Homo sapiens: one gene and its partner. The protein of the gene in region 1 interacts with the protein of each later gene in a pairwise test. Each region holds a gene or a part of one and is shown on either strand. Other genes may lie near its edges.

Evidence for each region. Proteins that work in one complex are often made in the same cells at the same time.
Region 2: the proteins of HPCAL4 (region 1) and F3 interact in binary tests that used the Homo sapiens proteins (3 or more experiments, as listed by UniProt).

Annotation. Positions count from the first base shown.
Region 1 is NC_000001.11:39,681,384-39,685,034, reverse strand, and holds part of HPCAL4 (hippocalcin-like protein 4), read left to right. Parts: intron 1-423; 5' UTR 424-431; coding exon 432-593; intron 594-882; coding exon 883-1,098; intron 1,099-2,301; coding exon 2,302-2,499; 3' UTR 2,500-3,651. UniProt on the Homo sapiens protein: May be involved in the calcium-dependent regulation of rhodopsin phosphorylation.
Region 2 is NC_000001.11:94,535,239-94,538,889, reverse strand, and holds part of F3 (tissue factor isoform 1 precursor), read left to right. Parts: intron 1-2,725; coding exon 2,726-2,925; intron 2,926-3,651. UniProt on the Homo sapiens protein: Initiates blood coagulation by forming a complex with circulating factor VII or VIIa. The [TF:VIIa] complex activates factors IX or X by specific limited proteolysis.

The DNA of each region.
Region 1 (3,651 bases):
ACAGTGCCAAGGGGACACACAAGGAACCTACCTTGGGTCCCTTCTCAGGACAGAAGCCTGCCAAGGAGGGTGGGGGCTGACTTCAGAAAGCCCTAAATGGCAAGGAGAGGAGTCAAGGCCTTAGTCTGTGGGCAGGGGAGCCATGAAAGGTGTGAGCAGGAGGGGAGAGGATGAAGACTGTGGCGTGCTGCACGGTCAGTGAGGAGGAGAGCTGAGACCTGGAAGGCGGGAGACCCCCGGGGCTAGGAGAAGAAACCTACCTGAATGCAGGTGTTGTGAGGGGAGAGGAGGCCCCATTATGGGGGAGTGTCATGAGGGGAAGGAACCTGCAACCCCGCCCTGTGTGTGGCAGGGGAGGGGGCAGCTGTGGCTGAGGCAGGGCCTTTCCCTGGACCCAGTCGGAGGAATCCCTCTGTCCCACAGGCCCCGCCATGGGGAAGACCAACAGCAAGCTGGCCCCCGAGGTGCTGGAGGACCTTGTTCAGAACACTGAGTTCAGCGAGCAGGAGCTGAAGCAGTGGTACAAGGGCTTCCTGAAGGACTGCCCCAGCGGCATCCTCAACCTGGAGGAGTTTCAGCAGCTCTACATCAAGGTGGGCGGCCGGCACCTGGTGTGAGGGAGCCAAGTACCCGGGTTGGGGGAGGCGAGGAACCGGGGGTGAGGGAGGCAGGGCACCCTGGGATGAGAAGAGGCGAGGCACCCGGGGTGGGAGGGGAGGCGAGGCACCCGGGGTGCGGGGGAGGTGAGGCACCCGGGGTGGCGGGGGCAAGGCACCCGGGGTGGGAGGAGGCGAGGCACCCGGGGTGCAGGGGAGGTTCCCTGAGATGGGGGCGGGGTGGGCGGGGCTGTCGCTGCGCCCCAACCCACCGCACCCCCCTCAGTTCTTCCCCTACGGCGACGCCTCCAAGTTCGCGCAGCACGCTTTCCGCACCTTCGACAAGAACGGCGACGGCACCATCGACTTCCGGGAGTTCATCTGCGCCCTGTCGGTCACCTCCCGCGGCAGCTTCGAGCAGAAGCTCAACTGGGCCTTTGAGATGTACGACCTGGACGGCGACGGGCGCATCACGCGCCTGGAGATGCTGGAGATCATCGAGGTGCGGGGCCGCGCGGGCGCTGCTGTTCCCGAGGCCAGCGCTTCGCCATCCCCGCCCCTGCCTCCGCGCTGCTCTCGGGCTTCGGGGCCTCCCTGCTGCTCCCCAGCCTGCGATCCCGCCTCCTACCACCCCGCTACAGGCCCGGGCTAAATGCTTTACCCGACACTCGACGGGGCGGAGGGGTTGGTTACTGTCCCAAACCCCATTTGGCAGAGGAGGAAACGGCCGGGTTCCTGATTCCAATCCAGGGAGTCTGACCTCATAGCTGATGTTTTCAACTCATTCTGTCAACAGGCAGGGATTGAGCGCCTGCCAGTTCTTGCTTTCATGGGGCATTCCTTCTAGTGAGAAATTTTTTTAAAAAATAAATGAATGAAGACATGCGGGGTCAGGCCGTAGGTGCTATGAGGAAGATACACTAAGCAAAGTGCAGGGAGAGCGCGTGATGGAGAAGTTACTTTATATAAGATGGAAAGTTAGCAGCAGCCTGAATGGGGTGAGGCCTTTACTGCAAGATGCCTGGGGGAAAGCGTTCCATGCTGAGGGGCAATTAAGGCAGGTCGGCCTTTCTCTGCAGAGTTCAAGGAGGGGCCAGGAGGCCCGGTGGTGGGAGAGCCATGAGAGGGAGAGAGTGATAGGAAGGTGGTCATACGGGGAGCCAGGAGCCCCATCAGTAAGGTCTCCACGGAGTTGGGCTTCTGGCATGTTTCATCCACATAAATATTATTTAGTCTAAATAAAAAATTAGTTGAGGGCTGGGCGTGGTGGCTCACGCCTGTAATCCTAGCACTTTGGGAGGGTGAGGCCGGTGGATTACCTGAGGTAATGAGTTCGAGACCAACCCGGTCAACATGGTGAAACCCCGTCTCTACTAAAAATACAAAAATTAGCGGGACGTGTTGGTGCATGCCTGTAATCCCAGCTACTCAGGAGGCTGAAGCAGGAAAATCACTTGAACCCAGGAGGCAGAGGTTGCAGTAAGCCGAGATCGCGCCATTGCACTCCATCCTGGGCAACAAGATCGAAACTCTGTTTCAAAAAAAAAAAGAGTTGCTCATTAAATATCCAGTCTTAATGACCACATATACCTTCCAGTATCCTCACCAACCCCCAGTGTTCTCCCTGCCAGATCCCTTTCCTTCACCCGCTGCTTCTCGGGGCCCCTTGTGGGTGTTCACACCTCCCTCCTCCTTCCCTCACCAGGCAATCTACAAGATGGTGGGCACCGTGATCATGATGCGCATGAACCAGGACGGGCTCACGCCCCAGCAGCGTGTGGACAAGATCTTCAAGAAGATGGACCAGGATAAGGACGACCAGATTACATTGGAGGAGTTCAAGGAGGCAGCCAAGAGTGACCCATCCATTGTGTTGCTGCTGCAGTGTGACATGCAGAAGTAGAAGCTGGTGAGGGGCAGGGTCCCTGGCCAGAAGGGGCATGGCCACCTCCCAACCTGATGACCTCTCTGGCTGGCCTCCCAGGAGGAGGGACACTCCAGCCCCCCTCTCTGGCCCACCCAGTCCTCTGCCCAAGCCCTTCCTCCCCTCCATCAAGATCTTTGAGGGACCACCTCACCCTGCAAAAGAGACAGGTCCTCCAGTACCCTGTCTTCTAGCCCCACCTCCCACTTGGCCAGAACCAATGTCCATTGGGCATAGGGGAGTTGGCTTTTGCCCCAGGAGGTGAGGTTAAGGAGTTGGGGGCCTGGGGTTCTGGTTAGGAATTCTCTTGATCCTGGGATTATGCTTTATAGGATGTGGTCCCACAGGCCTGTCACAGGGCCAAATTGGGTCTGTCCATTCCTGAGGCTCCAGATCCCATAAAGGGGGTCTCTTCCCCATCCCTTCTACTCTACCTGGCCCTTCCAGCCCCAGCCTTTGGAGCGTTCATTCAGTCCTTTCTTCAGCTAATGATTACTGAGCACCTGTTTGGTGCTAAGGATATGGTCATTTACAAGACACATCTTGTGCCCTCTGGAAGCTCATAGGGTTGTGAGGCAAACTTCCAGCCGTCAGGGTCTCAGCTAAGCAGAAGGTGCTGGAAGGCTGGTTAGTCTGGGAGGAGCTATTTCATCTTCCAGCTCAGCTCCACACAAAGCTGCAGAAGGACGAAATGAAAAGCATTTGGAAGTTTAGGAGCCACGTGAGTGAAAGTTTTAAGAAAAATGAAATTTATGTCATACTTATTTTTTTAGTACCCTTTAAAGGAGCTACAGTCATTTTATTATTTCAGGAGGTTAAAATATACTCTATATTACTTGGTTTCTTATAAAATGATTAAATGAATAGAGAAAATATTAATTTTCAAGGGGAAAAAACCTGAGAAGAAAGGGAGAAAAGACCATGAAATTTACCAGATAACACTTTTTAAGACTAAGTCCTGAGCTGCCACTCTCAGCAGTTTTTGCTGCTTCAGCTCTTCCTTTTTATTACCTTTTTCAATTCAACAAGCAACTTTCTGCTACATACTTACTCCGGTTGGGTGCTGACTTCAGGGACAGGAAAAAGCAAGGTTTGCAAAGAGTGAAACTAGTGTATATTCCGTATCTTGGT
Region 2 (3,651 bases), about 55 Mb from region 1:
AGCTTGGGGGATGCCAGCCGACTCAGGGTGGTCCTATGGACTGAACAATCTCTTGCTGCTGTACTGGAGGGCCTGGGAGCTTTTCCATCAGCCTCGGCCTGAGGTGTGCACTCTTCTCCTGCCCACCCCAGGAATAAATGAGATTCCTGGTTAAAAAGGACCAGAGCAGTCATTTTACAGTTGAGGAAACTGTTGCTCTGAGAAGTGAGGGATTTATTCATGACTACACTGATGGTGAGTGCCCATGTCAGGTCTGGAACCAAAGTCTACCCAGTATCCACACACCACCATCCCTCAGGTGGCTCTGCCACAGTCTGATGGGAGGCTCCAAAGCGGGAGGAAGAAGGAAAGTCTTGCCCACTGCATCTCCTCAGTTGGCCTTCCTCTCTGCCTGTTTTCCCTCCCTACAGTTAGCATCTTAAGCAGCTGCCCCTCTTCCCTCCCGACTGCTCTCACTACTGCAGCCTGGCTCCAGCCGCAGGACACTACTGCTGTGCAGAAGCCCCTACTTGGAACTCCAACTGCATTTTTCACCTTTGCTAACAGTTTTCAGTGGTGGTTGGGAAATGTTATTGGCTTAAGCCTTAGCACAAACCGTCACCGGTGATATTCATTCCATGGAAATGTTCTGAATTCTAAAGCTGAATTTACAAAGCTTCTGGAAAACAACCTGCAACCAAATTAGTGACTGAATTTTTTAGTTAACTCAAAATTCCAAATCAGAGGGTTTTGCAATGCCTGGAGGAACCTTGGAGGCTTTTAAAGTGTTAATGCTATTAATGGCATTCAGAGGGATTTTCTACAGAATTGTCCCTTCATTACCTGTTTATACAGTTTTACTACTTACCAGGGTACTGTATAAATCCTTGTGCTAAATTTTGCTATAGAGTATGTGGTCCCTGCTGTGAGCTGGGAGGAACCAAATACTGTATCTCTATGTTACATAGAAAGCCCTAGGAGACTTTCTCCTGTTATCTGAACAACTATTTGCTGTACTGATAAAAAGGAAACAGCATAGTCTCATTCACTTTTTGAAATGGAAATGATAAAATAAAACACATTTTGGTCATTCGGGAACAAAATACCCTCTCTACTTTTATCACATAAAATTAAATAAATAGAAACCAAAATATTTCAGTATCAATCTTAGTTTGTGCACTTTAGGATAAAGAATGTGTTTACCCAAATCCTTTTGGCCTGGTTACTTAGTTCAGATTTTGAAAGAAAATATATTTGTGGCTTTTATGTGTGAATTTAGACAATGGAATCCATGTGGTGCCTCGTTTTCCCTGAGATTATGTATTAATTCAACCTGTAAATGCAAACCATCTAATAGTCAGCGAGACCCTATAGCCCTGCTGCTTAATGGGGGCACACAAGGGCATGCAGCCCTCGTACCAGGCAGACTGTGTTCATATTAACAGCATCGTGGAGAAACTCATGCTGGGGGACAGGGGAGGGAGATGTAAATGCTCAGCAGGGAGATCTGGAGATTCCTGGAGCAGGTGGAGTTGGGACCTGGCCTTGAACGATGGGTCTGGCTCTGGCAGTCAGTAATGCCAAAGGGAAGAGCAGCATAACTGTCACTTTCCATGGGACAGAAGTGTGTGAATCAAGTTGCAGTGACGCTTCACCTATTTATTATTTTGGTCATTTAGAAGAATTTCATTGTCAGTAGAAGTCCTTTAAATCATTTCCCCTTCAGTGACGTCTCACAAAAGAAAGATCTGTCTTTAGCTTTTTAGTCTCAGACTTTATTAGACAGATACTACCTGTACTCTTATTCTGTAATCTTTGTTGGGATGGATTCACATCTTGCAAAGGAAGGGAGGCATGTAGTATAATGGGGCAAACAGACCCAGCTCTGCCACTCGTTAGATATGTGACCTTCTGCAAGTTGCTTAGTGCCTGTGAGCTTCAGTGTCCTCATGGATAAGAAAGATCCAACACCTTCTTGGAAGGATTATATCAAATGAAGTAACATGAGTAAAGGGTCCAGCAGAATACCTGGCATATAGTGGAGTCAATGAATGATTAATAATATTATTAATAGTGGTCATGAGAGAATATATGTATAACATGTTATTATGTAGACTCACTATATAGACTCTATTCTACATAGAATATAGAACATTATATAACAAACAACTATAATAAGTAGACTATAGTAAACAACCTCACTTTGTCTCAGTTGCCTCATCTTGATGGAAAACTGCTCTTTCTCTCCTGTTACCCTGACAGAGAGCGTCTACATTCTAAAAGAAAGATATTTAACAAAATGGTTGAGTACAGATCCAAGAGTCAAATAGCTGTCTGGTTCAAAGTCCAGCTGTGTGATTTTGAGCTAGTCACCCAATCTCACTTTGTCTCAGTAGCCTTATTTGTAAAAACAAGGCAAATTACAGAGCCATCCCCTGGGTTGCTATGAGGACTCAAACATGCATCCCAAGTGCTCGGTGTTGCTAGGTATGATGGCTCACACCTGTACATTCAGCACTTTGGGAGGCCGAAGCAGAAGGATCAGCCTGGGCAACATAGCAGGACCCCATCTCTACAAAACAATGTTTAAAAAAAAGCAAAGTGCTCAGCACAGTGACTGCATCATTAGGATTGATTGTAGGGCTCCTGATGTTAGCACAGAACACCACAGCCAGGAAGCAGTCTATCTTGTTGGGTGCAAATTGTAACATTCCATTTATGTTTCTTCCTTCTTTTCTTTCTTTAGCACTAAGTCAGGAGATTGGAAAAGCAAATGCTTTTACACAACAGACACAGAGTGTGACCTCACCGACGAGATTGTGAAGGATGTGAAGCAGACGTACTTGGCACGGGTCTTCTCCTACCCGGCAGGGAATGTGGAGAGCACCGGTTCTGCTGGGGAGCCTCTGTATGAGAACTCCCCAGAGTTCACACCTTACCTGGAGAGTAAGTGGCTTGGGCTGTAATACCGTTCATTCTTGTTAGAAACGTCTGAACATTCTCGTGATCTTGTGCCTTTAGGGGCTACAAAATTAAAAATATTTATTCTTTTTTTCTCAGAAACTGGTATGTATCACAGCCCTCTTCACACATTCCAGATGTGGTAGGAGGTTCACAGAATGTGAACTTTGGAGCTGATGACAGTGTCATCAAGTAACTTTCTCCCCCAGTCTGTCCCCAGACCCTGTTACTGTCCTCAGTAACCGGCTGAATGTGTGTTGGGAGAGGGCGGGCCAGGGAAGCGGGTAGGGATAGGAAATCCACCAAGGCCGGGGTTTTAGCTTTTCCCTATATATATATCATGTATCCTGATTTTTCTGTCCCGTTATCACACTAAAAATCCCAGTTGAGGATTTTTCCCAAACGGTCATAAATCAATGAGGAAAGTCCATGGTTTCCCTCTGAGCCCATAATTAGCCTAATTATGCTGACCTTTTCTAATCAGTTGGCCATGATTTGAGTTCCGTGATGTGCCAGCACCTGCCCAGCCATCTGCCTGTCACCCTCGTTCTGGTTTTGGAAAGGTGGAATACTTTCCTCCTCAGCCTTTGCCCCTGTAAGCTGGCCCTAGGAGCCAGTAAAAGAATGAAGAGAATTCCTGTCAAGTAGGAGATTTATTCTTTTGCCGCAACTGTGGCTCTGAGCTAGGCAATTTAGATAAATGCATGTAGC